Homo sapiens: one gene and its partners. The protein of the gene in region 1 purifies or fractionates together with the protein of each later gene. This does not show direct contact. Each region holds a gene or a part of one and is shown on either strand. Other genes may lie near its edges. The genes, in order: SLC2A1, HSP90B1, NUP205, CASKIN2, ATP6V1D, SLC25A4 and KDELR2.

Evidence for each region.
Region 2: the proteins of SLC2A1 (region 1) and HSP90B1 purify together in Homo sapiens (affinity purification with mass spectrometry; one large-scale study listed by BioGRID and IntAct). This does not show direct contact.
Region 3: the proteins of SLC2A1 (region 1) and NUP205 purify together in Homo sapiens (affinity purification with mass spectrometry; 2 studies listed by BioGRID and IntAct, with this or other methods). This does not show direct contact.
Region 4: the proteins of SLC2A1 (region 1) and CASKIN2 purify together in Homo sapiens (affinity purification with mass spectrometry; one large-scale study listed by BioGRID and IntAct). This does not show direct contact.
Region 5: the proteins of SLC2A1 (region 1) and ATP6V1D purify together in Homo sapiens (affinity purification with mass spectrometry; one large-scale study listed by BioGRID and IntAct). This does not show direct contact.
Region 6: the proteins of SLC2A1 (region 1) and SLC25A4 purify together in Homo sapiens (affinity purification with mass spectrometry; one large-scale study listed by BioGRID and IntAct). This does not show direct contact.
Region 7: the proteins of SLC2A1 (region 1) and KDELR2 purify together in Homo sapiens (affinity purification with mass spectrometry; one large-scale study listed by BioGRID and IntAct). This does not show direct contact.

Annotation. Positions count from the first base shown.
Region 1 is NC_000001.11:42,931,369-42,934,868, reverse strand, and holds part of SLC2A1 (solute carrier family 2, facilitated glucose transporter member 1), read left to right. Parts: intron 1-3,500. UniProt on the Homo sapiens protein: Facilitative glucose transporter, which is responsible for constitutive or basal glucose uptake. Has a very broad substrate specificity; can transport a wide range of aldoses including both pentoses and hexoses.
Region 2 is NC_000012.12:103,943,910-103,947,409, reverse strand, and holds part of HSP90B1 (endoplasmin precursor), read right to left. Parts: intron 793-3,500; coding exon 714-792; intron 625-713; coding exon 469-624; intron 100-468; coding exon 1-99.
Region 3 is NC_000007.14:135,620,417-135,623,916, reverse strand, and holds part of NUP205 (nuclear pore complex protein Nup205), read right to left. Parts: intron 1,141-3,500; coding exon 992-1,140; intron 1-991. UniProt on the Homo sapiens protein: Plays a role in the nuclear pore complex (NPC) assembly and/or maintenance. May anchor NUP62 and other nucleoporins, but not NUP153 and TPR, to the NPC.
Region 4 is NC_000017.11:75,505,538-75,509,037, forward strand, and holds part of CASKIN2 (caskin-2), read right to left. Parts: intron 2,749-3,500; coding exon 2,697-2,748; intron 2,145-2,696; coding exon 2,047-2,144; intron 1,593-2,046; coding exon 1,447-1,592; intron 1,358-1,446; coding exon 1,262-1,357; intron 1,177-1,261; coding exon 1,046-1,176; intron 877-1,045; coding exon 768-876; intron 393-767; coding exon 284-392; intron 115-283; coding exon 20-114; intron 1-19.
Region 5 is NC_000014.9:67,342,805-67,346,304, forward strand, and holds part of ATP6V1D (V-type proton ATPase subunit D), read right to left. Parts: intron 3,068-3,500; coding exon 2,964-3,067; intron 635-2,963; coding exon 568-634; intron 1-567. UniProt on the Homo sapiens protein: Subunit of the V1 complex of vacuolar(H+)-ATPase (V-ATPase), a multisubunit enzyme composed of a peripheral complex (V1) that hydrolyzes ATP and a membrane integral complex (V0) that translocates protons.
Region 6 is NC_000004.12:185,146,266-185,148,573, reverse strand, and holds part of SLC25A4 (ADP/ATP translocase 1), read right to left. Parts: intron 1,761-2,308; coding exon 1,603-1,760; 3' UTR 1-1,602. UniProt on the Homo sapiens protein: ADP:ATP antiporter that mediates import of ADP into the mitochondrial matrix for ATP synthesis, and export of ATP out to fuel the cell.
Region 7 is NC_000007.14:6,463,871-6,467,152, forward strand, and holds part of KDELR2 (ER lumen protein-retaining receptor 2), read right to left. Parts: intron 2,454-3,282; coding exon 2,201-2,453; intron 1-2,200. UniProt on the Homo sapiens protein: Membrane receptor that binds the K-D-E-L sequence motif in the C-terminal part of endoplasmic reticulum resident proteins and maintains their localization in that compartment by participating to their vesicle-mediated recycling back from the Golgi.

The DNA of each region.
Region 1 (3,500 bases):
GAAGTAGGACAGACTCGGAGGCAGAATCGAGAGGACCTGGTGATGGATGGATGTGGGGTGGTGGCAGCATCAAGTGTTTAAATCCTAAGCTTGGGACGGGCATGTGAGGTGGGAGCGTTCAGAACAGGCACGTGCCAGGTCTCACCTCACACATGACCCAGGGTTGCGGAGGCTGCTGGGAGCCGGCGGGATTGGGCCTGTGGGATCCTGTCAGGGCATAATAAGTAGACTCTTCTTTCCTGAGGTGCACCCAGACACTTCTAGGGAGGATGTGACCCCAGAGCTTTTCCCCATGTAGGGTTCTTCTCATTCTCCAGCATCCCCCTGCCTTTCCTGGGCCAAGAGTCAGCGTGGAACCCCATACGAATCCCCAGGGAGGAGAGGGCACAGAGCACCGGAACCAGCAGTAGGAATTGGAAAACCAGGCGTGGCTTCTTCCCAGAAATCTCAGGCATCAAGAGGCAGAAACCCACTCCCCAGCCTCAGCTTGGCCAGGAAGTGCTGCTGTGGGCTGGAGAGGATGGGTCTAGGCCAAGGTGAACATGCAGAGAGCTGGCTGCTCACCCTTCCTCCACCCCATAAAGTGGTCTGAGTAACAGAGCAGCTAGGCAGCGTCCAGGAGCCAGCCCTGGACAAGGTTGGGTCCCTTTGACTGTGTGACCACAGGCAGGAGACGTAACTCAGGGTGGAGCTCTGGTCACACCTCACTTACACACAGCCCTCTTGTCAGTTGCCCCAACATCTCAAGAGATCTTCAAGCTTATTTAGGTAGTTTCAAGCCTTACTTAGCACCTATTTACTCTTTCTTTGTATACAATTCAAACAAATTCCATTTGCTGACTTCTTGGCAAATTTCAAAAGAGGTGTGGAGAGTTGTACAAGACAAGCCTCTGAACCACAGAGGGTTGGGGGAATACCTTAGAACTATGGAATGCAGAAATTTAGCCATCAGGAGCCAGTCTGCACAGGGACAAACACCTCTCCTTGCCCCTGGAGAGAGCCCCAAGGGCAGACACCATTGCCCTGCAGCCCTGCTTGTAGGTCTGGTTGCTCAGGAGAGCAAAGTGAAATCTCTTCACATTTTCACCCCATAATGGGTCAGGAAAGATTGGACCCTCAGAAGGGCAAGCGCCATTTATCTGGACCGTTCCCATATCCACCCTCATTCAGAGCAGCCTGTTCTTGGTGGAGCCTGATAAACGGGGCATTACCGTTCCCAACCAGTCCTCCTCTGGGGTTAGTTTCGTCCACAGAAGAACACTTTGCATTTTGTTACTCTGTTTTTTGTCAAAATCTGCCTTCTGTCTGCCCCCAGCAGAATCAAGGGGTTCTAAGAGGAGAGCCTAACACCTTTGGTTCGATTCCTCCATTTCCTCACCAGGTATCCCTGGCACTGGCTCTGGGACAGACCATGGTGTGAATCAACTGTCTTCCTCAGGGAAGACAAACTCCTGGAGTCAGGGAAACCTGGATCTCGAAAGGTTTCAGCAATAAGGCCAGGGGTACCTTCCAGGCAGGAGTAGTAGCATCTCAAAGGCGTAGAGGGGTGGGAGATGGTGTGTAGTGAGTGCAAAGGTGTGGTAGGTAGGGAGATTGGATTGATACCTGGCAGGAGCCCCGATTTTGAGTTACGGGTTGAAGGCTTGGGGAGACTCTGTTAGTGGTCTGCACAGCCTTCAGGCCACCAGTGTGCAGTGGGGTGATTTTAGGGATGATGACACCAAGCACTGTTTCACTGATTCCCTGCAGCACTGTGAAGCAGCTCCTGCTAATGTCTGCACTTTAGAAATGGGGCCATGGAAACTCACAGATGAAATAACTTGCTCATGGTCACACTGGAAATAAGGGGTGGAGCTAGGACCTGAATTTAGTTGTGTCCAGAATCAGAGTTCAGGTTTCTATTCACTGCCCTGCATGGCGTCCTTGGAACGGACAAGCAGATCCTTAGGGCTTGCCTCTGCCCTACCAACTGTCCTCGCCCCTTGGAGCCTGGCCTCCATCAGATGCCTGCTGACTTGGGACAGGTTGTGACAGGGCAGGGGAAAAGATGGCTAGAGGCTGAGCACCCACAGCAATGGGAAGGAAGGCACCAGGAGGCAGGCCCAGCATATTTGAATAGGTGGGCATTTCTGGGACTGCAGGCTTTGGTTTGGCAAGTGTGCCTGCCCACACCTTCTTCTTCTGCTAGACCTCAGTGGGTTGGAAGGGATAGGGAGGACCAACAGCAGTGATGGAGGCTGCAGAGGCTGCATACCGCTGTGTGTGCATGAACCTGTGGCATGCACACACACGGAGGGGTGTTGGGATGGGTTGGGTTCACATGGAATTGAGTTTGAGCTGTAAGTGGTAGGGGATGAGGGGCATGTGAGTTTGTGACTGGCTAAAGCAGGAATATTTAGATTCTATGAGCACGGGTATGTGTGTGTGATGGTATACGTGCATAAGAAGCCGTTTCTGGGTAACTAGGGCCTGCACTCTGCTATACGTGTGGCTGGGTGGGTCTGGCCAGTCCCATGGCACTGAGAGTGTGGTGAGTGTGCTCAGGCAGAACGGGTGCTGCCTGCCTACCACATCCGTGGGAGCTGGCCAGGGTGGGGGCAGGGCTGGTGGGCAGGGCTGCCCTAGGACGGGCGTTTCCAGTTCCTGGAACTGCTTCCTTGTGTGGAACCTTTCCCCATACCTCCTAGCTGGGCCCTTGGGAGAGGGGAGGAGGCCGTGGGTCCTTCAAGGGGGTGCTCGCAGGCCAGACACAAGGGAGCTAGGCCTGGGGAACAGAAAGCCACAGCGTGAGTCTTTCAAGCACTTCTGAAGGGTGACATGTGTGAGTTTGTCACACCAGGCCCTCAGTGCGGTCAGGGAGTCTGTACTTCCTGGATGGCGGAACCTGTCTGTCAAGCCCTGCTTCCTCCCCAGCAAGGGGTTGGGGGGAGGGCCTGATGGCAGGAGATGGGCCCCTGGGGCTTTGAGACATGGTGAGGAGAAAAGGGGCAAGTGGGAAGACCCTTTTCCTTCTGTATTTCTCTTTTTTTTTTTTTTTTTTTGAGACATAGAGTCTCACTCTGTCACTCAGGCTGAAGTGCAGTGGCACAGTCTTGGCTCACTGCAAACTCCGTGTCCTGGGTTTAAGCAATTCTGCCTTAGCCTCCCGTGTAGCTGGGATTACATGCTTGCGCCACCACGTCCAGCTAATTTTTTTTTTATTTTTAGTAGAGATAGGGTTTCACCATGTTGGTCTGGCTGGTCTCGAACTCCTGATCTCCAGTGATCTGCTTGCCTTGATCTCCCAAAGTGCTGGGATTACAGGCGTGAGCCACCACACCTGGTCTTGTACCTCTCTGTTCTATGCCTGAACTTCCACCACTGATCACTTGCCATCATCCCAGCAAGTCACACTGAGCCTGTGAAACCACAGGGCACTGGAAACCACACGTTAGGGGAAGTGGGAGAGTTGGCGGGGCTCTCAGATGAACTCCAACCCCTTGTTTCTCGCCTGGGGAAAG
Region 2 (3,500 bases), on another chromosome or scaffold:
ATCTGTTCCCACATCCATTTCTTCATCTTCGTCTTGCTCTGTGTCTTCTGTTGTGTCTTCTGCTGTCTCTTCAGGTTCTTCTTCGGGCTCTTCTTCCACCTAAACACAACATTTATGGGCCCATTAATGCCTTGGATTTATTTCCACTTTGCTCATTTATATGTATAAAATCATAATTAATGTCACTTCTGTTTATTCAGAACCACAGACTAAATCCTCTTAACTAGAATGAACAGCCAAGCTAACAAAAGGAGGCAGGCAAAAAGGAAAGAGGACGTAAAAGGAGGACTTAGTTTCTAGTGCAGTGCCTGACACTACAGGGATTCAAACATTCAATAAAATTCTTTCAAAAGGTAGAAATTAGGCAAATGTCGCAAAGCTACATCCCTCAATCATGAGAGGCCTATTCTGAAAGAACAGAAACAAAGAAAGCCAGCCAGCCTTTGCGGGAAGGTTGGGGATACAAACCTTTGCATCAGGGTCAATGTTCAAACTGAGGCGAAGCATTCTTTCTATTCTATCTCCATATGCTTTAGTGTCTGGTAAAAGATACCCTGACCGAAGCGTTGCTGTTTCAAACAAAACCACAGCAAGATCCAAAACTGTTTTATCATCTTCATCTTCCTGAAATGCAAGAAGATGCACTAGATTAATATTAAAAGATACAAAGTACTCAAATTAAAAGACAAGCAAGAGGACTGCTTTAATACTACCTTAATTCGTCGAAGCATGTCTCTGATCAGCGGGTGTCTGGGATTAATTTCAAATGTTTTCTTCTGACTCGCATAGTAACTGTTAAGAGATAAAAATGAACATTAACAAAACATATCCAATTTTAGGGTTCATACGTTTCCCTTATTCTTTCATAATTACACAGAACAACTCTTGGTAAAAAAAAAAAATCAAAATGTACTATTGACACTTGAACACCACAGGTTTGAACTTATATGCTATTTTTTTTCCAATAAATACAGTCCGCCCTCCGTATGTGCAGGTTCAGCAACCAAACTCAGATAGAAAATACCGTATTCTTGGGATGTGGAATCCACACACACAGAGCTCCCACTCTTCATATACACGGGTTCCACAGGGCAGACTGGGGGACTAGAATATTTGTGGATTTTGGCAGGGGTCCTAGAACCAATCTCCCTCATACACCTAAGGACGACTGTACTTTTCCAGTCTACTTTATCTGCAGAGTCAATCAACCTCGGATTGAAAATATTAGAAAGGGCAAAACAAGAAAAAAATAAAAAACCCAATACAGTATAATAGCTATTTACATAGCACTTAAATTGCATTAGGTATTAAAAGTAATCTATAGATTATTTAAAGTACATGGGAAGATGTGCATAGGTTATATGCAAATACGGCACGACTTTACCTAAGGGACTTGACTATGTGTGGATTTTGGTATCCATGGGATGTTCTGGAACCAACACCCCATGGACAAAAAGGGATGACTGCACTGTTTCCTTATTTAGTTTTTATAGAGACAGGGTATCACTATATTGCACAGGCTAGTCTTGAACTCTTGGCCTCAAGTGATCCTCTCACCTCAGCCTCCCAAAGTGTTGAGATTACACACGTGAGCCATGTGCCCAGCCTGTATTGCTCCCTTTTAACGGGGAGGTGGGGTGGGGAGCAAGTGGACACGGTTAGATGAAAAATGAAATGAAGGGAACTATTTTATTTACTGATGAGTCCCAAGTACCTGGAGCACTGCTGAACAGACGAACTGATTTAATGTCCTGTTTGTTCCCTCTTAGTTTATTCTTACTACCGTAATTGTAGCTCTGCCTCCCCAAGTTCAGAAAAATCTATGTAGCCTCTGGATTGTGCTCCAATAATAATACCTTCTCCACGATGCCTTCGCCAATGATTCCAAGAAAAATTAACTTTATCTGAGCTCAGTTCCAAATGCATTTTGAATATACCTTCAAAATCCTTAGCTTTTTACTGTTGGTTGTGATTATTCTCTCTTCTCTAGTTTAAAGCTCTGAGGACAGGGAGGAACCACATCCTTCCCTATCCTGGTGTACCCATTATCTATGTAGGGCTCGGATTATGACTTGCTTTTTTTCCTCTTTTTTAAATAAAAAAGAGACGGAGTCTGGCTATGTTACCCAGGCTAGAGCTAGAGTGCAATGCCATTACAGCACACTACAGCCTCGAACTCTTGGAATCAACTGATACTCCTGCATCAGCCTCCTGAGTGACAACAGGAGTGAGTCACCATGCCTGGCTTTGATTTGTCATTTTCACTAGTCTAAATGTTAGAAAAGACAGGAGTTATGTCTACCTGTGACCATCAGTGCATGGACATAGTAAGTCTTCATGTTTGTTGGATGCAAGGTAACTTCCTATTAATCATTTCCTGAAATTAATAGGTGGACATGTTTTAAATGGCCCTTGTACTATTGCAATGGGATATCAGATAAACAGAACACTATTCTCTGCATGAAATTTATAGTTAAAAGACATATATGGAATTTTAGAATTGTGACAACAATGGAGACTACATTTGTGAGAAAAGGCTTTAAGAATAATAATCCTGGCCAGGCGCAGTGGCCCACGCCTGTAATCCCAGCACTTTGGGAGGCCGCAGAGGGCGGATCATGAGGTCAGGAGTTCGAGACCAGCCTGGCCAACATGGTGAAACACCGTCTCTACTAAAAATACAAAAATTAGCGGGTGTGCTGACAGGTGCCTGTAATCCCAGCTACTCAGGAGGCTAAGACAGGAGAATTACTTGAACCCAGGAGGCGGAGGTTGCAGTGAGCAGAGATTGCGCCACTGTACTCCAGCCTGGGTGACAGAGCAAGACTCTGTCTCGGGGGAAAAAAAAAAAGAATCCTTAAGCTAGGCCTTGGGAAAAAAGGATGATGACTAGATAGCATATCAGAAACATACTCCAGGTGAAAGAAGAGAGAATAAAAGTAGGGGAGAAGTCATTTTCAAGATCATTGCTGTGACATTAAAACATAAACTTGAAATACTATATTTCTTGAAAATAAAGAGTACCAAAGACTCACTATACCTCCAGGTATAGGCCCTTGAGTTCAAATACTGTTAATTCACAGGTCCTGTACCGTCTACTTTATGAGACATTCTATCTGGATACCCATAATTTAATGCTTGGGGGTGTGGGGGACGTGATTTGAAATGGACTTAACTCACTTGAGGAATGTTGTCATTAACCTCGTGCAGCTATTACATTTAAAAATGTAAAATAAATTCAGATATTAGGCTAAGCATATAATCCAATGCAAAAGTAAAGACTATGCATAACACATTAAGAAAATTCCCATTTACATATCAAATACAATAAAATCAGAAAATCATGAGTCAAAGACCTTTTCTTTCTCAATCAAATGTAGGAGAAATCCCTTCGTAAACTTGTTGTCTACCTTATAGTAGACAGTGGTAGACATTTAAGGCAATTTTACTCTTTGTATTGAAGCTGGTATTATCTCCAAAACAAAGATTGGGTAAGGGGC
Region 3 (3,500 bases), on another chromosome or scaffold:
CAGCTACTTGGGAGGCTGAGGCAGGAGAATGGCGTGAACTCGGGAGGCGGAGCTTGCAGTGAGCCGAGATTGCGCCACTACACTCTAGCCGGGGCGACAGAGCGAGACTCCATCTCAAAAACAAACAAACAAACAAACAAAGAAACGTAACTAAAAGGTTATGCCAGTTTATTTTTTAAAATCCTATTTCCTATGGTCTTCAAAAACATGATTTAATTGCTACATAATTTTGCTACATAATTTTCCATTAAGAAGAAGTTATCTTCTCACTGCATCATTACCAGTGTGCCACCATACTGTACAAGAAATATAAATACAAATTCTCCACAAAGCAATTAGGCAGACAAAGATCTATTCAGTACAAGGCAATTTATTCAGCATTCTCTTAACCAAAGATCTTTATTAAGCAGCGTTTCTGTTGTTTCTACCAGTCAACCTCAAAATTAGCAAGAAGATAATTCTGAAAGGCAATTCTGAATTAAGATTCTAACAAAATTAAACACAACATATGAATAAATAAAACAGAAGTCTCAAATTATAGCAAATAAGAAAATACAGTATATTATAAAAAATGATTCTTAATATGTACCATACATTATTAAAAGTTGAATCAATTTATTTTATTTTATTTTTTGCAGCAGGGTCTCACTCTGCAGCCCAGGCTGGAGTGAAGTGCCTCGATCACAGCTCACCGCAAGCAACCTCTGCCTCCTGGGCTCATGCAATTTTCCCACCTCAGCCTCCCAAGTAACTGGGACTACAGGTGCATGCCACCATGGCTGGCTAATTTTTTGTATTTTTTGTAGAGACGGGGTTTCACCATGTTGCCCAGGCTAGTCTCAAACTCCTATACTCAAGAAATCCACCCACCTTGGCCTTCGAAAGCACTGAGATTACAGGCATGAGGCACCACACCCAGCCGTGAATCAGTTTATACCTTAATAAGTCAAAATACTTATTCAATTATAATACTAAATAAGAGTTGCTTTACCCTTCCAATCTCATGACCATCACAAGCATCTCGACAGACCACTTCCATGAGGGCGGCGCCATAACTTTCAATAATGGCTATGTTTTCTCGCTGTAATTTGCTAAATACATCTTCAGGGGCTGTCAGCCTTTCCCACATGGTTTTCTTGGCTAAAAGGATTAAAACAGAAAAAAACACTCCAGTAAAAAGCAGTGTAATAACTGAGTAATTATACCTCACATGCTAGGTATGAGCTAAGGAAGAAAAAAAAAAAACGCAACAAAAAAATCCTTCCATCACTGCTTGTACACAAAGGCCCACTGACCGGTGGGTCCAAGCAGGTTAACTCTAATAACACAATGCACCTATTTCATGCATGTTTCATAACACTAAGATAATAATTGTACCTGGAAAAGGATAAATCATTCTGAAAGAGATCAAAATGAATTACAAGACTCCATGAGAACCAACGTCCTGTATTTATCCTGCTCATCAGTCTTTTTTTTTTTCCTTCTTTTTTTTTTTGAGACAGAGCCTGGCTCTGTCTCCAGGCTGGAGTGCAGTGGCATGATCTTGGCTCACTGCAGCCTCCACCTCCCAGGTTCAAGCGATTCTCCTGCCTCAGCCTCCCCAGTAGCTGGGACTACAGGTGCATGCCACCATGCCCAGCTAATTTTTGTATTTTTAGTACAGATGGGGTTTCATCATGTTGGCCAGGATGGTCTTGATCTCCTGACCTCGTGATCTGCCTGCCTTGGCCTCCCAAAGTGCTGGGATTACAGGTGTGAGCCACCGTGCCCAGCCGCTAATCAATCTTTTATCTTTTATTGAGATCTTTTAAAATTGCCAGGCGTGGTGGCTCACACCTGTAATCCTAGCACTTTGGGAGGCCGAGGCGGTGGATCACTTGAGGACAGGAGTTCAAAACCAGCCTGGCCAACATGGTGAAACCCCGTCTCTACTAAAAATACAAAAAATTAGTGGGGCGTGGTGGTGCACACCTATAATCCCAGTTACTGGGGAGGCTGAGGCAGGAGAATCACTTGAACCCAGGAGGTGGAGGTTGCAGTGAGCTGAGATCGCACCGCTGTACTCCAGCTTGGGCTACAGAGTGAAGCTCTGTCTCAAAAAACAAAAGAAAAGAAAAGAAAATTTAGCTAGAAAGGATCAGGTACAATGTAGACAAAAATTTGCCTCCAAAAAAATCAGATATTTTTATTCTTTTTTTTAGTTGAAATACTTATTAAAAATAAAAGCACACCTATTATAAAAATAAAAGCACAACCATTATACAATGATTAGGAACAGTATGATCATACATTTTATGTAAGACCCACAAACATACTCTTATGTGAGACTCTTTAAAAATTTCACAAGTACATTAAATAAAGCAATAACTTGTATTGGAAACTAATCTCATTTTTTCCAACTGCTACATAGCAGCAGTTTTTAAATTGGCATCTTGATGACTTCTTATAAAAAGCCTATTGTAGAGCCCCACCTAGTGGTTAAGTGGTGACTTGGCCAATTCAACTAAATGGAATGTTAAGAAAAACACACACACAAAAGAAAAATGTGGGAGGTGCTGAGTGGAGAAATCCCATTACTATCTCTTTTCTTAAAAGAAGCTCATGTTTGCTTAAAAAACTTCTCTAAACTATTCTGTTATTTTTCCTCATCTTACAAATATTCTCATGCATTATTTATGTGGGTGCTACATGCCTATAAATCTACCATTTGGCTATTACTACCTTATAGGGTACTATGTATGGCATAAAATACAACCACCATAAGGATAATGAGATCAAGTCAACCTTACGTACACAGTGGTTTTTAACAGTGTATACAAAATAACACTCACAAAGGTGAAGAGCCCAAAGAAAATCCATTATCAGAAGGTGCTCTGACAACTTCTTAACAAATGGCAGAATAACTCTGAATAACTTGATTGAACATCAAATGTCTATAAAGTATATAAAGCATTATATACTGATGTGTTGAACACTTAATAACATTTTCATGTCTTAAGATTAGTTTCAATTAAAAATGCTAACTTTTTAGAAAGCAGCATTTAGCAATATTTTAAATGTGCCTAACTTTTGACCAAGAAATTCCACTTCTTGGAATTTATCCAAACAAAACCTCACTAGTACAAAAAGATACATGTATACTATTGATGAGTTTATACTGGAGAAGGTCATTCATTTGAATCTTTTTAAAATAAAAGTACATACTTTTACACATGGAAATTCCACCATTAAGCAGTATCCTTTTTGAGAAATATAGGCATATAAAAAAAGTTGATGTAGCATTTTTGTAATAAAAATTTAGAAACAATTGAAATGCCTGTGAATAAGGAAAATGGCAGATAAGTGTTTCATCCATATCATGGAATAACAAAGACTTTTGTGTTTCTTTTTGAGACAGAGTTTCACTCTTGTTGCCCAGGCTGGAGGGCAGTGGCGCAATCTGGGAAACCTCTGCCTCCTGGGTTCAAGCGATTCTCCTGCTTCAGCCTCCTGAGTAGCTG
Region 4 (3,500 bases), on another chromosome or scaffold:
CCTGCTTGGGGTCCCTCACCGTGATGACATCCCCTGCCCGGACATTGAGAGCAGTGGGATCGTGGAGGTTCCAGAAATCCTTGAGCGCTCGGACCTTCAGGATCCCTGAGGCCTCTAAGAAAACGGGGTGGGGGACAGGTGTCATCTAAGGGTCCTTAGGGCATCTTCCCACCCCTCATGCCCTTGACAACCCTCCCCCAGGGACGTCCACTCCCCCTCCACATCCTGGTACCACTTGAGCGGCCCCAGGCCCCCTGGGCAGGGTATCCTCCCCCGCACTCACCCCGCAGTAGCTGCTTGATTTCCCGGCTGGCCTGGGAGGTGGTGAACTGATTCACTATGTCCAGCGCCGTCTGGTTATACGTATTCCGGATGTTCACGTCCACACCTCCCTGGGTGCACAGTGTCACATGAGCACACGCTAAGCACTTTGACACCCCTCACCCGATTCTCTCAGCTACCCGGGACATAGGTACTATTACCATTTTCCGATTTTACAGATGAGGACATAGAGGCTCAGGGACTCAGTCAAGGACAAGCTCAAGTTCACTCAGCTAGTAAGAGGCAGATCTGGGGTGCCAATCAGGTTGGTCTGCCCCCGATCCATCTGCACCGCCTCGGCACCATTCAGAAGGAAGTCAGGCCTCTTTCCTGACGCCCATGCAAAAACCACGCTGGAGTCCTCCGTCCCGTACCTCCCCAGCCAGTCAGGGGCACAGGGCAGAGGCTCCATGGACACCTGCGAGGGAGCAGGGGCCCATACCCACCTCCAGAAGCAGCCGCACCACCTCGGTCTTGCCATACAGTGCGGCCTCGTGGAGCGCCGTACCCGTCTTGGTCTGGCGGTTGATCTCGATCCCAGCTCTCAGGAGCTGCCTGCAGTGGACGGGGGGAGTCACGGGGGAGGTGGCGTAGGAGGGGGTGCTGACTGCTGGGGGCCTGGGAGATGGAGAGCCCGGGTGAAAAGGGCAGTGGGGGAGAGCACTGAGGGGCACCGATGGTCCCGCAGGCAGGTGATGAGGAAGCGAGGGGACCCCAAGGGTACCTGATGACTTCTCTGTGGCCATTCTTGGCAGCCAAGTGCAGGGGCGTGGTGTAGTTGGGGTCACACGGGTCTTTGGCCTCACCCTCCAGCAGTGCCACACATAAGTGGCTGTTCAGAAGCAGCTGGGCCACCTGCAGCACCCAGTGCCCAGTTAGAGCCTCCTCCTGAGACCCTGTAGATGTCCAGGACCCAGCACCCCAAGGCTGCAGGCCTCACCTTGAGTCGGCCAAATTCACAGGCCAGGTCCAGGGGCGTCTTCTTGGCCTTGTTGACCAGGCATGGGTTGGACTGATGCTGGAGGAGCATTTCTGACTGGGGTTGGGGGAGCCGAGTGAGGGGGCCTGGCCTGTCCGGCACCCCACCCTGCCCTGCGCCACGCCCCTGTGGGCAGCCTCACGTACCACCTCATAATGTCCATACTGTGCAGCCAGGTGCAGGGGGATCTGTCCGTCCAGCGAGGCGGCATTGACAGCCGCAGAGGCGCGCAGCAGCAGCCTCACAGGCTCCAGCCGGCCCTGCCAGGCTGCGTAGTGCAGCGGGCGCATGCCTGGCAGGAGGAAAGGGTTTCTGAGGGAGGTCCTGGGACGGCGTTGGGGGTGGAGAGGAACTGAGCAGAGTACGGAGCCAGCCCAGCTGGGAGGGCAGAGAGCCCACGGGGATGCAATGCTGGCTCTATCCAGGTGTGCTTAGGAAGAGGTTCGGCTCGACAGGGCTGAAGCCAGAGTCCTGCTGTGCCCACTGTGGATCATGATGACCCCAGGACAGCAACAACACCTCGCTGAGCCTCAACCTACTCATCTGAATAATGGGATGTTAGTACCACTCGCCTATGCAAGAAGGCTGTGAAGAGTAAACGGGGAAAAGCCACTTGCAAGCCCAGAGACGCTGTGCTAGCATCTATTAGCATTGCTACGTTGTCATAGGAGCAAGCTCTGGTCCCAGGGTCTGGGTAGGGCCCCTACCTGCCCAGGGTGGGGGTCGGGGGCACATGGGGGTCTCACCATTGCTGTCCTTGATGTCAACAGTGGCCTGAGCCTCTAGCAGCAAGGCTATGAGCTCCAGGCTGCCCCCCAAAGCAGCGTGGTGGAGGGCAGAGAATCTGATGTGGGAGGACACAAAGTTAGGGGTGTTGGTGGGCAGCCCCCACCCCCAAATCCTGGTCTTCCATACCCGAACCTATCCTGGGGGCTGGCAGGGATGGGTTACTGGCCCCCCCAACCCCAGCAGCCCTGCCGTGGGAGCGCAGTGGCTGAGCCACAGCATGAAAGGGCTCAGTGTCTGCACTGAGAGGCCCGTTTGTCTCGCCCCCCCGCCTCCCAGCTGGCCCAGGGGAGGGGGCCGTGGGAGCAGGAGCCTGAGGGCTCCTACCCTCCAGGGAGAAAAGGGGGCCCCAAAGGAATCTGACCCCAGGAGGCCCTGCGGAGAGGCACCAGGGCCCCTCCCCTCACTCAGGGCTAACTCCACGGGCGGGCGGGTGCCCCCTCCCTCCAGCCCAGGGACAGGGCCCACAGCTCGCAGCAAATACACTTCCAGGGCCAAGTCTGAGAGGGAAAGGGACCCTGGGCCTCAGGATCTTTCCCTCCAGCCCCACCCCTGGGGCTCTACTGCCCCCACCCAGCAGCTCTGCAGAGGGACAGGGGCTCCCACTCACCCATCAGCATCCTGGTAGTTCACGTTGAGCCTCTTTGTGGAGCCCAGGAGCTCTAGGGGTCAGGATAGGAGGTGTCAGGGCCATCAGATGACTGCCCTCACTCAGCATCCCTCCCCCCACCTGTCACAGCCCGGCTGACCTCTTGGCGTGCAGGAAAGCACCTGCCCCATGGCCTTCCGCCTGTCCCGTCCCTGTGGCTCCCCACCCTGGCCCACCGGCCCAGCAGCATGAGGGCAGTGAGGGCAGGATGCTGCTGCGGCAGTGGGCTGGCTTCCCCTCGCCCCAGTCCCGCTTGTTTATAGAGCCAAAGAGGGCGGGGGGTGGGACTGGCACGATGTGCCCTCAGTGGACAGGCCCACGGTGTGCATGGTTAGCATTCCTGCCTGAATGGGCCAGGCAGCGAGTCATGTTGTCCTACTGGGCCGAGGGGTGGGGAGAGAGAAGGAAAGAGGCACTAGGTATTCAAGGGCAGGCCACGATGCCCAGTCCTGGGGCATCCCAGAGGAAGGTGACATTAGACAGACCTCTACCCAACACTGGCTCTGCCAGGCACCAGCTGTGTGACTGTGACAAGTCATTTAACCTCCCATGCTCAGTGTCCTCAACTGTAAAATGAGCTGATCAGAACCTGCTCACGGGGGCTGTGAGTACAGTGCCTGACCTTGTCATATGCAAAGACAGGAGCTCTCAACATCTAGCCCTCCTGACATGTGGGCAAATACCATCCCGATGTTAGGGCGATGGTCCTCCAACAAGAGCTGGCACAGGGCCCATACTGTCCCCACTGGGATCTCCATGGGTGCT
Region 5 (3,500 bases), on another chromosome or scaffold:
TTACTTCAAATTTTGCTTTCTTACCTAAAATTGAGTGTTTCTTTAATAAAAACTAAGTTTATTGAGCAAAAAGTACCATCAACACTAAGCAGTCATATTTTTTAAATAGTGAAATAAAAGAGATGGAAAATAAGTGCATCAAATGGGAAATTTTTTAGAAATCAAGGAGAATGGCTTATACTGATTTAAAGTTAAATATTTAATGTACTCAAAAAGTTGCATCACTCAACCATTAGAAAGAACTACAGAAAACACTAAGGATCTTGAGAAATATTCCTACCCTTAAATAACTGCATGAATAACTGGAAATGAAGAAAACATTCCATAATTTTTAAGTCACCACTTTCCTATGTGTGTAACTCCCCCAGATCATACAAGTACTTCTATCAGAACACTTCATAACACTTTTTTTTTTTACTATGGACACACTTCTCTCTTTGCACTGTGGGCAAGGGAAGCATCTTATTCATCTTTCAGTCTTCAGTACAGTCCCTGAATTCTAGCAGTTTCACGACAAGTGGAGGGTATGGACAAGTGACAAAGCACCTCACAGTACCTAATACTCACCATGTTCAATGGCATTTACACGCCTGTTGGTTATCTTAATAGCTTCATCCAAAGTAACAAAAGAAGTCTAAAATAAGAACAAATTAATAATGTAAGCACAAAGTCTTCCTAATCATTCCCTGATCACTTGACTCCACTAAGACTGCACTTGTAGAAAACATTTGAGAACCAAGACAACTTCTTTTTGGCATGCTTAAAAAACAAAATTCTTAGGCTGGGCGCATGGCTCACGCCTATAACCCCAATACTTTGGGAGGCTGAGGTGGGAGAATCACTTGAAGTTGGGAGTTCAAGACCAGCCTGGGCAACACAATGAGACCTTGCCTCTACAAGAAATAAATTTTAAAAATTAGCTGGGTGTAGTAGCATGCACCTGTAGTCCCAGCTGCTTGGTAATCTGTGATGGGAGGATCGTTTGAGGCTGCAGTGAGCTATTACTGTGCCACTGTACTCCAGCTTGGGTGACAGAGTAAGACCCTGTCTCTTCATAACAAAACAAAAACAAAATTCTTGTGAGATTTCCATAGGGCTAACACTATTTCCATGCTATTGATAACCTACATGTCACATTTGGTAGGTTTCCAAATTAACCTGCCTGGGCAGATTGAGGGATCTTATGATTCATGGTTTACATCCTGTCCCTGAGTAAGGAAATCTTAAGTTTCTCAGACTGCTGACATACTGATTAATATGCAACCTACTGACGCTGAAAATGACACTGATTTGTTTCTGATTCATGAAGTTTTACTTCATGATTTACTTGCATGTAGAACATTTTAGCTTGTATTTGTAATCTGTAGCCAATGATTGTGACCTCTGTATTGTACTCGCCAATGAAAAGGACAACTTGGGTATGAGGAGTCCTCCCTTCTCCTAAACTTTCCCATAAAAGCCTTCCAACTTGTAGCAGACTCTAGAACACACCCAACTTTGTTGGTGTCTTCCCGGGTCAATCCTCACATTTGGCTTTCAATAAACCTTTATCAAATCATTTCTGCTTCAACAGGCTTTACTTGAGTTGACACTATTATAATTTGTTTACTATAGTCTCACCTAAATAACAACATAAAAATGACAAGAAAGAATCAAGCATTAATAACCTAGATATATACTAACTGGCCACATAGGGGAAAAAATGGTCTTCCATGCACAAACGATGTTTATTTACATTTACATTTAAATCTAGTATCAACTTGCTATTCTTACTTAGCAAAGAGTGAAACTGGGCTGGGTGAGGTGGCTCACACTTATAATTCCAGCACTTTGGGAGGCTGAGATGGCAGGATTTCTTGAGGCCAGGAGTTTGAGACCAGCCTGGGCAACGTAGCAAGACCTCATCTCAACTAAAAAATTCAAAAATATTATCCAGGCGAGGTGGCACAAACTTGTAGTCCAAGCTACTTGGGAGGCTGAGGCGGGAGACTGCTTGAGCCCAGGAGATCCAGGCTGCAGTTAGCCAAGATCGCAACACTGCACTCCAGCCTGGGCAACAGAGCAAGATTCTGTCTCAAAGAAAAAAACAAACAAACAAACAAAAAAAACAAGAGTGTACCATAGCACATACATTTTGTTAACAAGAAGAAGCAGGGGCCGGGTGTGGTGGCTCATACCTATAATCCCAGCACTTTGGAAGGATGAGGCGGGCTGATTACTTGAGCCCAGGAGTTCGAGACCAGCCTGGACGACATGGTGAAACCCCACCTCTACAAAAAATACAAAAATTAGCTAGGTGTGATGGGGCATGCCTATAGTCCCAGCTACTCAGGAGGCTGAGGTGGGCGGATCACTTAAGCCCAGGAGGTTAAGGTTGCAGTGAGCTGGGATTATGCCACTGCACTCCAGCCTGGGTGACACAGTGAGACCCCATTTCGAAAAATAAATAAATTTTTAAATTAAAAGTAGGGGCCAGGTGCAGTGGCTCATGCCTGTAATCCTAGCACTTTGGGAGGCCGAGGCGGGTGGATCACCTGAAGTCAGGAGTTCGAGACCAGCCTGACAAACATGGCAAAACCCTGTCTCTACAAAAAATACAAAAGTTAGCCAGGCATGGTGGCACATGTCTGTAATCAGCTACTTGGGAGGCTGAGGCAGAAGAATCACTTGAACCCAGGAGGCAGAGGTTGCAGTGAGCCGAGGTCGCGCCATTGCACTCCAGCCTGGGCAACAAGAGTAAAACTCCATCTCAAAAAAATAAAAAATACATAAATTTTAAAAAGTAGGGACAATGGTACAAAAGCCATCACTTCAGAAATCAAAATATTATGTTTGCTTTACATAGGATCATGGGAACAGTTAAAAGTACAAAGCACAGTATATGCTGACTCAAGACCTGACTCTCCTCCACTTGACTGTTACAAATCAAACTACAGGAGTTCTCCAGGTCTTTTGCTACTTACCTGCAGAGAAGCTAGTTCCACCAGTAGTTCCACTGCTTTGGCATAATTCCTCTTTAATTTAGCCAACTGTTCCCCACCTCTGGCTAAACCAGTCAGTTCATAACCTGAAAGGACCAGTCAGACAACATTTTTAATTAGAGTAAAATATCTTCCCTATAAAATTCCCCAAAAGGAGATAATTCAGAATAATAACAAATATGGAAAGATGAATTCACTAATCTTCATTGAATGTAAACATGAAGTGCCTATCTCACTCCCCAAACACTATAGGAGCATGCTACTAAATACAGTTTCCCACAAGAATACTATTCTAAATATAACTACAAAGGAAGCTTTTAACCAACCTTCACTTCACTAGCTTGATGCCCCTTATTCCCTTTGAAAATCATACTGCCTGATGCCCAGAGTACGATGACACTCTGTGAACAGGTGACTCTCTCTAGAATGCTCTACTTCTTCGTATGAAATGTACTTAATATTCTATATGATTTAATTAAATATCACATGAAGCAAGGAAATACAAGTGCCAAAAGAAAG
Region 6 (2,308 bases), on another chromosome or scaffold:
TTTCTTTCAAAGCCTCCATCTCCTACCACTCCCTCCCCCCATTTCATTTCCCTTCTATTCCTTCTCAAGCAAGATGTATTGTCTTAAACAAATTGTCTAACAATGGAATTTCACCTTTTCTCCCCAACTGAAGCATCTTTCAGGGCAGGTTCCTATCTATTTTCCCTTCCACGGGGCCTAAGAGGTATTAAATACTAGCTTGATAAGTGATGCTATGGACTGAATGTTTGTGTCCCTTCAAAATTCATCTGTTGAAATCTTAACCCCCAAAGTGGTGGTGTTTGGAGGAGGGGCATTTGGGAGGTAATTGGGTCATGAGGGTAGGGCCCTCATGAATGGGATTAGTGAGCTTATAAAAGGGACTACAGAGAGCTCTGTCGCTCTTTCTGCCATGTAAGGATACAAGAAGTCCGTAGTTTATAACCCAGAAGAGGGCCCTCATCAGAACCTGACCACAGTGTCACCTTGATCTTGGACCTCCAGACTACAGAACTGAGAAATAAGTTTCTGTTGCTTATAAGCCATCAGTCTACAGTACCTTGTTATAGTAGCTTAAACTAAGACAACTGATTTTCTTTCTTTTTTTTTTTTTTGAGACAGAGTCTTGCCCTGTCGCTTAGGATGGATGTGGTGGCATGCCATCTCAGCTCACTGCAACCTCTGCCTCTCGGGTTCAAGTGATTCTGATGCCTCAGCCTCCTGAGTAGTTGGGATTACAGGTGTGCGCCACCACACCCAGCTAATTTTTTGTATTTTTATTAGAGATGGGGTTTCGCTCGGTTGGCCAGGCTGGTCTCAAACTCCTGGCCTGAAGTGATACGCCCACCTCTGCCTCCCAAAGTGCTGGGGTGACAGGTGTGAGCCACTGCACCTGGCCTTGATTTTCAATGAATACTCTCTACTTAACATAAAATTCTAGGTGTCACAGTTATCTAAAGGGATGAAAACAGAGCACTTCCTAATCATAGAAAATTCTCCAGATTGTGATTTAAAACTTTTAGCAGAATCTTAGAATTTCTAAAGACTGCAGGAAAGTGCCTAAGACAAGGCAGGATTATGAAAGCCATTATCACTTTCTAGCCTACAGTAATGCTGGATAAGATAGATAGAATATGACCTGCCTAAGTTTGAAAACCGGAACTTTAAGCATTGTACGTTCTCATATAATACATTCTCAATATAATATCTGGCATTTAGAAGCTTGGCTGCTGACTGATACATGAATCATGCTAGAAAATATGCATTTTTGATCTTTTAAAAATGCATTTTACAGTTAATAAGAGTTCAATAAAATAGAAAGCGTGCATTAAGTGGTCTTTATTGATGTTTCACATTCAGTTATTATCAATTCTTCAGTTAATTGTACAAGTATGATAAATTATTTTCTATTTGCTGTGGGAATTTAAATGTAAAATAAATACAAAATACATGTGTGGTTTAATGAACACTCAATGAAGCATCTCTTCTGAGGTATTCCTTTCAGTCTGGTTTTATCCCAGATCTTTTTACTTCCCCTAGGAATAGTCTATTAAACCACACAATGGATCTGTGAACTTGTAGATCAAGTTCACTGTAAATCTGTGAACTTGTGTTTTAATTACATTAGACATATTTTTTGATCTCATCATACAACACCAATACAAAAGCACCGCCCATGCCTCTCAGCACATTGGACCAGGCACCTTTGAAGAAGGCCTTGGCTCCTTCGTCTTTTGCAATCTTCCTCCAGCAGTCAACTGTCCCCGTGTACATAATATCGGCTGTGGAAACAAATGCTGGTGAGGGCTCCGTAACGCTGGAGGAAAGAGACTTTTCCCCTGAAACATATCTGTACACACTGTTACCAGTTTTATAAAATCAGGGTCATCTGGGCATGGAGTCCCAGCTCCATGCAACATCCCACTGGACATCTCCTTCCTTGCTTCACTGGCAGGCTGGGTCTCCTGTCATTCCTACTCCATTAGTTCAAGGTCAGTGAAGAACTGGGGCAATTAACCAAGTAATTCATGGACTGCCCAACTGCGAAACAAGAAGGGCGCAGTGGAGCAGGAGTATTATGCTACGCGGTTACCTTTTTTTATGGAGGACCGAACTGAGGCCGAGCCTCAGATGATCCTGCACGAGGTTATGCAGTCTAAATAAAAGGCTGTAACTATTCGTTGAAACATACGAAACTGCTAACATTGGACTGTTTTTGACTTTTAAAGTGGCAATTTCGTATGGTTCAACCTATAGAAGCCAAAACTTTCTCTGGCACAACAGATTGCTTCAGGCCATCTCTACCCAGCTAAACACCCCATCCCACTAA
Region 7 (3,282 bases), on another chromosome or scaffold:
GCCAACATGGTGAAACACCATCTCTAATAAAAATACAAAAATTAGGCTGGGCACAGTGGCTCATGCTTGTAATCCCAGCACTTGGGGAGGCTGAGGCAGGAGGATCACCTGAGGTCGGGAGTTCGAGACCAGCCTGACCAACATAGAGAAACTCCATCTCTACTAAAAATACAAAAATTAGCTGGGCGTGGTGGTGCATGCCTGTAATCCCAGCTACTCAGGAGGCTGAGGCAGGAGAATCGCTTGAACACAGGAGGTGGAGGTTGCGGTGAGCCAAGATTGTACCATTGCACTCCAGCCTGGGCAACAAGAGCAAAACTCTGTCTCAAAAAAAAAAAAAAAAAAAAAAAAAAAAAAAAAAAAAAAAAAGCTAGGCGTGGTGGCTCACGCCTGTAATCCCAATACTTTGGGAGGCTGAGGTGTGCGGATCACGAGGTTGGGAGTTCAAGACCAGCCTGGCCAACAAGGTGAAACCCCGTCTCTATTAAAAATACAAAAATTAGCCGGGCGTGGTGGTGCGCACCTGTAATCCCAGTTACTAGGGTGGTCAAGGCACGAGAATCACTTGAAGCTGCAAGGTGGAGGTTGCAGTGAGCCGAGATTGCGCCACTGCACTCCAGCCTGTGTGACAGAGCAAGACTCAGTCTCAAAACAAAACAAAACAAAACAAAATTAGCCAGGCATGGTAGTGCGCGACTGTAATCTCAGCTACTCGGGAGGCTGAGACAGCAGACTCGCTTGAACTTGGGAGGCAGAGGTTGCAGTGAGCTGAGAGCAAGCCACTGCATTCTAGCCTGGGTGAGAGAGACTCGGTCTCAAAAAAAACAAAAGGAAAGAGATAAGACATATATGCTCTTTTTTTTCTTTTTTTTTTTTTTTTTTGAGACAGAGTTTTGCTCTTGTTCCCTAGGCTGGAGTGCAATGGCGTGATATCAGCTCACTGCAACCTCTGCCTCCCGGGTTCAAGAGATTTTCCTGCCTCAGCCCCCCAAGTAGCTGGGATTACAGGCCATGTGCCACCACACCCGGCTAATTTTGTATTTTTAGTAGAGATGGGGTTTCGCCATGTTGGTCAGGCTAGTCTTGAACTCCTGACCTCAGACGATCCACCCATCTCGGCCTCCCAAAGTGCTGAGATTATAGGCGTGAGCCATCGCACCCGACCTATATATGCTTTTTACCTAGCAATTCCACCATTAGGAATTTTATTGTATAGCTGGATTTTTAGCCTGGGATCTGTGGTTGGGTTTCAGGGGCTCCTGAACCCCTCAAAACTATATACATGCATTTGGGTGCATTTGCGTAAATATCTTTTTTTTTTTTTTTTTTGAGAGAGAGAGTCTCGCACTGTCACCCAGGCTGGAGTGCAGTGGCGCGATCTGGGCTCACTGCAAGCTCCGCCTCCCAGGTTCACACCATTCTCCTGCCTCAGCCTCCCGAGTAACTGGGACTACAGGCGCCCACCACCACGCCTGGCTAAGTTTTTTGTATTTTTAGTAGAGACGGGGTTTCACGTGTTAGCCAGGATGGTCTCGATCTCCTGACCTCATGATCCGCCCGCCTCGGCCTCCCAAAGTGCTCGATTACAGGCGTGAGCCACTGCACCTGGCATAAATGTTTTTTTTTTTCTGAACAAGGATGATAGCTTTCATCAAATATTTGTAAAGTTCACACGTCCTATGTTCATACAAATGCAAAAACACATATACACAAGGATGCTGATTTAATGACTGGATTTTAACAGCAAACCAGTAACGGCCTGACCACCCATGAATGGGGGCTGGGTAAATAAATTATGGTACATGCACATAATGAAACACTCTGTGGCTACTGAAAATTATGTAGATTTCTAGTGACATGAAAAATGTGAGGGGATAAAAGCAGTGTATAGAACAGCAATGTACAGTTTAAGTCATGTGTCTGTGTATGCATAGAGAGGTATCTGGTGTTAATGTTCACTGAAACACCAGATGAATCTTTTACAGTGAAAATGTGTCACTTTAGGAAAAGCTATTGCAAAAGAAAAAGGGTTCTTATATTTAAAAAGACAACATCCTGATCCAGAATGTTATTGGCCAATCATGAAAGTGTTTCTCTGGAGCCAGTTTATGAGAGAGTGCCAGATTAGAAGAGTGCTGGGCAAGGGCACTCCTAAAAGAACACGTCACTCTAGAAACAACGCAGGTCGCACCCAACATACCTTTTGTAATGTACAAGTAGAAGAAGTCACAGTATAGGATGGTCTGGACTACGCCGGCCACCACAGCAATGAGGTCAAAGAAGCCCTCAAAGTAGAAGCGCCAGATCCAGTTGACAAGATACAAAGCACGATAGAGGCCCAGGAAGAACAGGTAGTGGGTGGTGATGGTCTCGGCCTCCCCAGTCTTGCTGATCATAAATAGCTGCGGAAGGATAGCCACGGACTCCAGGTAGATGGAGAAGGTCCAGAGGATCTGGAAGAGAAATGGCAAGCTTCCATCACGACCCACTGCCCACCAGGAGCTCAGAGGAAACACTCTTGCTTTCTTTACCACAAAGCAGCCTAAGATGAGTGGGGAGTGGGGCATGTCGGCCCAAAATAGAACAACAGCTTGGCAACTGCATAACCCAGTGGTCCCAGCCTTTTTGACACCAGTGATCGGTTTCATAGAAGACAATTTTTCCACAGACCAGCAGGGTGGATGGATGGTTTCGGGATGATTCAAGCACATTGCAATCATTGTGCACTTTACTTCTGTTATTACTATAATATACAATGAAATAATTATACAACTCGTCATAATGCAGAATCAGTAGGAGCCCTGAGCTTGTTTTCCTGCAACTAGATGGTCCTATCTGGGGGTGATGGGAGACAGTGACAGATCATCAGGCATTAGATTTTCATAAGGAGCATGCAACCTAGATCCCTCAGATGCACAGTTCACAATAGGGCTCATGCTCCTATGAGAATTGAATGCTGCCAGTTATCTGACAGGAGGTGGAGCTTGGGCAGTAATGTGAGTGATGGGGAGCAGCTATAAATACAATGAAGCTTCACTTGCTCACCCACGGCTCATCTCCTCCTGGGTGGCCTGGTTCCTAACAGGCTATGAACCAGTACCAGTCAGTGGCCCAGGGGTTGAGGACTCCTGGCATAAATCACAGAAACTTAAGCAACCTTTAAGAGGCAAGGCACTGCCAGTGTGACAAGCTGGGTAACCTGGACACCTCTACCTCTTTGAATTTTCATCACCTTGTCTCTCCAGGTTTATTCTTCCCTCTTCAATTTTCTATGAATCTACA